Homo sapiens: one gene and its partner. The protein of the gene in region 1 interacts with the protein of each later gene in a pairwise test. Each region holds a gene or a part of one and is shown in the gene's direction. Other genes may lie near its edges. The genes, in order: SH3BP5 and SPTBN1.

Region 1 (3,917 bases):
AAGTATTGAGATTACAGGCATGAACCACCATGAGCAGCCCCTCCTGTATACTTTAAGTCAGCTCTAGATTTCTTACCTGCAATACCTAATACAATGCAAATATGTACATAGTTGTCATATACTGTATTTTTTTTTTTTCTAGAGAGCAAGGCAGTCTCGCTTTGTTGCCCAGGCTGGTCTGGAACTCCCGGCCTCCAGTGATCCTCCTTGCCTCAGCCTCCCAAAATGCTAGGATTACAGGTGTTAGCCACCACTCCTGGCCATGTATTTTTAAATATGCATTTTTTTAATTGTTGTGTTTTTTTCCCCCAAATATTTTCTATCTGTGGTTAGTTGAATTTACACATGTGGAACCTGAGAGGCTATGGAGGGTTGACTGTATATAGTACTGCCTGTGGTTTATTTATTTTTCTCATTTTATCTTTAGAAAGACTATTAGGATTAACACTATAGCTGGCCCAGATCTCCAAAAAATAAGACAACAAAAGTCTGAACTGATGTTCTTGAGCAGTTGGCCTATGTCTCATAGATGTATTTTGCTCTTGACCTAAGCTTAAGCAGGAATGTAGTTTGGAGTTTGCCATTTAGAATGGAGAGGATAGGGTTCTGCTAGCTGAGAAGCATTTATCATAGTCAGGGCTGACCCCAGAGTTCTGTTTATTTCAAACTCTGTCTCTCAGTTCATTCAGAGCTAGGATGTACCTGCAAAGTTGGAGGCTCAATTCCAAGCCACCAGAGAAGGTTGGTGGCTCCTGTGTTCCAAAGTGACCCCTATGGCTATCTTGTTCCTGGCTTCATCTATCATTGGAAAACCAAAAGCAACTATGTCTTTAGCAAGGAGCTTTGAAGCACCTCTCACAGAATTGCTGACTCATCCTTGATTTAAAGAGCAATGAACAGGTCTGACCTTTTTAGAAACAAACCATGGCACTACCTCCAGGAGACAGGACAAATTTCCTTTGACAGTGGACTACAGTGCCAGCGTGTATGGGGTGGTGCCTTGCCCAAGGAGTAACCCTCTAGCCTAGTTTCTGATAAAACCACCAGGAGCAGGACTATTTATTCATTTGAGAAGGGGTCTGGCTGTATTGTCCAGGCTGGTGTTGAACTCCTGGCCTCAAGTGATCCTTGTGTCCTGGCATCTCAAAGAGCTGGGATTACAGATACGAGCCACCACGTTGTGCCAGACCCAGGTTTTGTAAGGTGGCTTTGATGATAGGTTCTCAGAAAGAAGCTCCTTTCTCAAGCAAATTTGTCCTCCAAACTCAGAGCCGATGGGCTACAGGCCTCCGTGTAGGACATGTGCACGTTCTGCATTTCTCAAGGCAAGGAGACGTGAGCAGCCATGTGCTCATCTGCTTTGCCAAGGTCATCCTTTGCGTTCCCCTGACATCACAGTGGCCCTGACATTTCATAAAAGCACACACACGTGCCTCTTCAGTTTGGCCTTTTCGGATGCTGTGTCTGCCAGGCCAACTCTGTCTCCCTACTTGTTGATGGTGGGCAGAAAGTCTCACTAATTCATAAATTCTTGGCCAGAGTGTGCCCATCAACAGGGGTTACACTTGCCACCTCCTTAAATCCCAGCTCAATGCATTCTCCATGCTCCTGGCTATTCAGGTAGGACCGCCGCACCTCTGTGTTTCGGTATGGGGCTCGCCCAGAGAGGCCGCAGCCTTCGGCAATGCATCAGTGCACGGAACCTCCGCCATTCCCAAGGTTCGCTCAAGAGGATGAGTGTGCTTTGGGTATAGGGTTTCGGCAAGTCTTGGTCCTGAGGGCCAGGGTCACTGAGCGTAGGCTTCAGAAGGCGACTTCAGTGTGAAAACACCCACGCCTCCCTACCACACAAACAACGAGCCTCGGAGGAGGGCTGGAGGAGGGGACTCCCGAAAGCGGGAGGCTTGCGTTACGTAGTTGAGATATATCCGAGCTGCTAAGTTACAAGGGGGTGGGGGCTGTCCTATTTTGCCACCTTGGAGATGTGGAGGGAGCTGGGGTTTTGCGACGGAGACCTGGATAGCTGGGACTGGCGGCGGAACGCGAGGCCGGGGCGGGACGGGGGCGGAGCGGGCGCTGCGCTGACTGCCGCGGCAGAAAGGGGGCGGCCGCGCCCATTTCCTCTGCTCCGCCGCGGCCGGAGGTATCCGCATCGGCGAGCTGCGTCTCCCGGGTGTCGGCCCCGGCGGCTCCCCGACCGTGCCCGGCTGTGGCGAGGCGGCTCCAGCCCAGCCTGTGGCAGCCGCGACCCCCGGGGCGCTCCGGAGCCCACTGCGCGGCGCGCGTGCCGGCTGCCTGCATGGACGCGGCACTGAAGCGGAGCCGCTCGGAGGAGCCAGCCGAAATCCTGCCGCCTGCCCGGGACGAGGAGGAGGAGGAGGAAGAGGGGATGGAGCAGGGGCTGGAGGAGGAAGAAGAGGTGGATCCCCGGATCCAGGTAGGGCGCGCGGGGTCGCCCCGCATCCGGGCTTCGCGAGGGCTGCTACGGAGGTCGGTGTCTACGCGTACAGCCACTTCGCAGCCCCCAGTAACTGTGGTCCGGGGACTGGCGGCCACATAGGGTGGCAGGAGACGGTCTGTATGCTCCGTTTCATCGTCTCCACAATGAGGAGGCTACAGTGCCCGCGTGGATGCGGCCTGACTCTATTGCGGGGAGTCCCCCGCCGACCCGTAGCAGGATCGGGGTCGGTGCAGCGTGCCTGGTGGTTCGGGTGGATGTGCAACAAAGGGAAAAAGGGGGCGGGGGCGCCATGGTATCCTCGGGGGTACCCCTGCCCGGCCGCGGCACCGCGGGCATGGCACGGCGTCCAGGCTCTGCGAGGAGGTGTCGCCCGCGTGGGCGCCGGGCACCGTGGGCGGGTGGGCGTTGCCCTGCAGCGCGGGCTGGCACCGGTGCCCCGGGTGCAGAGTCCTCACTTGCCAAGGTGCCCGGCCTGAGCCGTTTTCCTTCTCTGATTGATTGTTAGCGAACTGAGCGGCTTATTGTCATCACTGGCTCAACGTTCTGCCTGGCTTGAAATTGCTTAAAACCCTGCTTTTCCTTGTTGTGAGGTTGGGCATGAAAAGAAATCGGGGACAACTGATGCGCAAAGCTGACGCGTGGAGGCGGCGAGGGGATTGGGCTGGCTGGCTGTGCCTCCATTTCCAAGAGAGATGATTAAAAAACAATTTCCAAGCCGAGATCTAGGAGTGACAGTTTCACCTCTTCACCCCTAAGCAAAAAGCAGAGCAAATCCCTTTCTAAGGCCCGTTTTTTTTCTACCTTTTCAATAAATCATTTTTTTAAAAAAATTGCTTTTAAGCATGCTCTGTAATTTCTGGATACCTAATTGGTTTTTTAGTGCACAGATCAATTTAAAAGCTCACTTAACTCAGTGGTTGGGGTTTAAATGAATTGTTTTGTCAGCTTAGCAAGATAAAGATCAGGTGGAAAAAAAATCCTTGCATTAGGAATGCTATTAATTAAAGTAATTGGTTTGGAATAAATCGTGTGTTACTGGTATGGGATTATGTTAGCAAGATCCTTTGTTTGCATAGTAATGATGAGTTAAGTTCATGTTGGATACTTTTTTTACAAAATGTCAGTTTGTAAATGTTTATTGAAAGGAATGGGATTAAAGCTAGTTTAAAACGTCCAGCTAAGTAGGTTGAATAATTGGCAGTGTGAAAAGATTTTCACCCTTTACAGAAAAATAATTCTGGTGAGTTAATACCAGAATTCTGCCCTTGATGATTTCACTGGGTTTATATTTTTGGCTTGGCCTTGCTTATTGTCTTTTATTGTTTTCTAAGCAAAGTTCTTGCTCAAGGCAGATGGTACTGTTTTGATTAGGCCATTAAACCATTTGTAACAGGTGGGGTTTACCTGAAGGCATGTACCTGGAATAGTTGACCTCTGACAAATTCCAAATGTCTCT
Region 2 (3,917 bases), on another chromosome or scaffold:
TCTCTTGGGCAAGACTAGTAACAACTATCTGTGATGTTGCAGAGCAAATGAGAAGACCTCCCTCTACTTGTGACACATCCTGAGCAGAGGCTTGGCATTGGCAGAGTTTCCTGGAAGGGTTTGTAGAGTGGTTGCTTTGTCTTGATGTTTGAATGTATGACTTTACATGTGGAAGTACTATTTTGACGTGGAAGGATTTTACTACTGCTAACATAGACATGATTAGTGGAAATCATTCAGTGTGGATTTTGTCGAAATAATTTTAAGCTTTTCTTTTTAATAGCATATTCTTATAGAACATTTTAAAGCCTAATTTTTTTTACGTGCAATGACATGATGCTCCTTTAATTATGTTGCATCGTAACTAGTATCTTCATTATAATTGGGCTTTATTTAATGGCAGCCGTAGTTTCTTTCACTACATTATTGGAAATGCAAACCATTCTTCCAGAAGGAAGGGGCTAACTACCCCTGTTAGAAGAGTGAACTTTGTAGGTCTGTGGAAGTGAGTAAAGCATCTCATGGGTTTTTCTTGTAAATTTTCAGTCTTTGCTTTTTCTCAGGGCATCTTTTCTTTGCAAAAGACCTAGTTTAGTACTCTGATTTTTCCGGTAGCACTTGTAATTATATTTAAATTTTTATTGTGTGGGAATAACATCATCTATTTTTTTCTACTCAGTGGTTAAAGGAAATTACACCAATTAGATATACCTGTGTTTCTATTTTTAAACATCTCTGGAGAAGGCATTTTCATAATGTCCTTTGCTATCATAGTGAGGTTCACGGACCTTCAACATTAGAATCGCCTGGAAGCTTGTTGCAAATGCAGATTCTTAGGCCCCACTCTGAACTCAGCCAATCGGAATCAACATTTTAACAAGACCTTTAAGTGAGTTGTATGCACATTAAATGAAGAAACTCTATTCTGTTCCTTCAGCAAAGGGACCTCAATATCAAAAGTTTCCTTCTTGAATTTTCCTTTCTTTTGCTGAAGTATCAGCACATTTTTTTCCTTGATGGTGGTGACAAAAGTGAGGCTCTCACTGTAAATTATTTGTTTAATACAAAATTATTTTATAAAGCTGTTCTTTAATTCTTGGTGGAAGAGTCCTATATACCATGGTTTATTTAGATTAATCAGTGTTTTAGGTTGTTTTGTAAAACACCTCTAAAGTTGAAAAACAGTCTTTTTCCCCTCTGGAAGAAAAAGGCATTGGTTTTGAGACATCAGAGCTGGAGCCTCGGAAGCTAACCCCTGAGCAAAGGGTCCTCTCTGCTCCCTCTGCTCTGGCATCTTGATGTCTGTCATCTGATATAGTCAATGTCCTGCCCTCTCGTCCAGTCTTTTCTTAGAGTTCTTTTTTGAATCAACTAATTGGTAGGTACAAAATAATGTTCCTAAAATATATGTTAAAGAATCGTAAACCAGCTGGGTGCAGTGGCTCACGCCTGTAATCCCAGCACTTTGGGATGCCGAGTGGGGGCGGATCACTTGAGGTCAGGAGTTCAAGACCAGCCTGGCCAACATGGTGAAACCCCATCTCTACTAAAAATACAAAAATTATCTGGGCATGGTGGCAGGCATCTGTAATTCCCAGCTACTCGGGAGGCTGAGGCAACAGAATCAGTTGAACTGGGGAGGCAGAGGTTGCAGTGAGCCGAGATCGCGCCACTGCATTCCAACCTGGGTGACAAGAGCGAGACTCTGTCTCAAAAAAATAAAAATCATAAACCAAGGGACACTCAGGCAGCCACCGGCTAGTTCAGGAAGAGCCTTATACATTCAGAGCCCACCTCCATCATCCCATCTGAAACAACCCATATCCTTGATTTTGTGCATATCATTCCCTTCTCTATGGTTTATCCTTTTTAAAAAATCTTGATTGTGTATGATTTTGAACTTTATATCAACAAAATTATACTTTATGTATTCTTCTGACTCACATATTTAGATTAAGATTCTATTCCCAAGGTTTATCCATTTCATGGCTGTATTTCATTCAGTTTCACCTGCTGTATAGTATTCTAACGTGATTTATTTATTCATTGTACTCTAGATGGAGATTTGGATTGATTCCAGGTTTTTTTGCTATTGTGAAAGGGTTGCTGTGAGTGGTTTTTGTACACGGCTCTTGGTACATATGTGGAGGCACACACACCCATTTGCTGTCTCTAGGGAATGAAATTTTCTGGCTCACAGGGCATATGCATCATCAGCCTTAGTAGAGAATGTAGAACTGTTTTTTACAAAGCGATTATGTTGATCGTGTTCCCACTAGCCATAAGTGTTACAGTTCCAAAGCCTTGCCAGTGCTTCACATACCAGGCTTGAAAATCTTGTCCAGTGAAACATTATCTCACTGTGATTTTTATTTACAATTTCTCTGATTATTGAGTTTGAATGTCTGTTTACATTATTAACCATTTGGGTTCTTCGTTTTGTGAAGTACCTGTTCAGTCTTTTACCCATTTATCTTATTAATTTGTAGTTCTGTATGTAGATTACTACTAATCCTTTGTGGATTACATGTCTTGCGACAATTACTTCTCAGCTTGTGTTTTTTTTCTTAACTCGAATTTGTGATTTCTTTTGATGATCGGTTATTTGTAATTTAGCAGAGTCATAATCAGTATTTTGTCCTTTAAAGTTTGTGAGGGTAATTTTCTTATTTCAGAAAAGTTTTTCTTTGTTTGGAAAGAGCATTCGTTTTGGAGTCAAACAGGTTGTGGGCCCAAATCCTAATGGTGTTGTATACTAGCCTTATGGCTACCACTAGGTACTGGCCTTGAGCTAGTTAGTTACTCAAGACCACAGTTTCCTCATTGGAAAAATCAAAATAATATTAGTTTCTCTTAGTTATGATACAGCAGTGTACAGTTCCAGGCACATAGTACGTATTTAGTTGATAACAGTTGTTTCCTTTCTGTTGGGACTGCCTAAGCACTATGACCCACTGATCCCTTTTGGTATGCTTTGCAAAAACTACCTAAACCTTTTTATGTCAGGAGAGCTATTAAATGGCTTATTCTAACTTTTGTATTTTAAAAGGCTGCATTACCAATGGCATTTATATATTGATTAATACAGTCTGAAGAGACCACTTACTAGAAACCCTTATCAGTTTAGGTTCTGGTTCTTGAAAGTAATGTAATTACATTTATTTGTACACAGTTCTTTTGACCATTAAGCATTTATAGTATTAATGATCTTCCTTTACTGCTACTCTGAGATTACTTTGTAATATTGTTTTTTATTTAATGAATAATTATTGGATACATTATCTTGCCAGGACTTGAAGTTGTTATGGTTTTGTGGACTGGCTTAAAGTTGAATAAGAATTAGTTCCTGAATGAAAGGACTGTATACTCTAGTATATGGAATATATTTTATGTACTATACACAGAAGGTAAAATACCTTTAACAGGCTGGATGTGTGACTTTGGCAAACCTTTAACCCTCCGGTCTCAGATCTAATTTTATAAAATGGAAGACTTAGATGAAATCATAGTGGGGGTTAAAACATGGCACATGCCATCACTCGCTTCTGTTCCTGGCAGACATCGAAAATCAGTAATGGTACTCTTTTTCCACTGAGCTGAGATAGTCTCAGTCATATTCTCGACATGGTGTTCTAGGCAGTAACTACCACTCGATTAAATCTGGCATTCAGTTTTTAAGCTCCTGTACACTTCTAAATTCTGTGATTATAAGATACTTGAGAAACTCATCACCTTGGCAGTGTTCAGAATACAGTGAGACTGGAAGAAACTAGAAGCAAGGAGACAGGAGAGAGGTGACTGGGGGTCCAGAAGTAAAGGGAGCAAGTTACAGTGGTGGCCAAGGGAACAAGGAGAGGAGAGATGGGAAAATGGTTGTGAAGGCCCAATCCTATGCGAAGCTATTTGTAGGGTAAATG

What was found.
Region 2: the proteins of SH3BP5 (region 1) and SPTBN1 interact in a two-hybrid assay, tested with the Homo sapiens proteins (2 studies listed by BioGRID and IntAct).

The regions. Positions count from the first base shown.
Region 1 is NC_000003.12:15,330,791-15,334,707, reverse strand, and holds the start of SH3BP5 (SH3 domain-binding protein 5), read left to right. Parts: upstream 1-2,121; 5' UTR 2,122-2,299; coding exon 2,300-2,437; intron 2,438-3,854; exon of another isoform or gene 3,855-3,909; coding exon of another isoform or gene 3,910-3,917. UniProt on the Homo sapiens protein: Functions as a guanine nucleotide exchange factor (GEF) with specificity for RAB11A and RAB25. Inhibits the auto- and transphosphorylation activity of BTK. Plays a negative regulatory role in BTK-related cytoplasmic signaling in B-cells.
Region 2 is NC_000002.12:54,459,291-54,463,207, forward strand, and holds part of SPTBN1 (spectrin beta chain, non-erythrocytic 1), read left to right. Parts: intron 1-47; exon of another isoform or gene 48-118; intron 119-3,917. UniProt on the Homo sapiens protein: Fodrin, which seems to be involved in secretion, interacts with calmodulin in a calcium-dependent manner and is thus candidate for the calcium-dependent movement of the cytoskeleton at the membrane.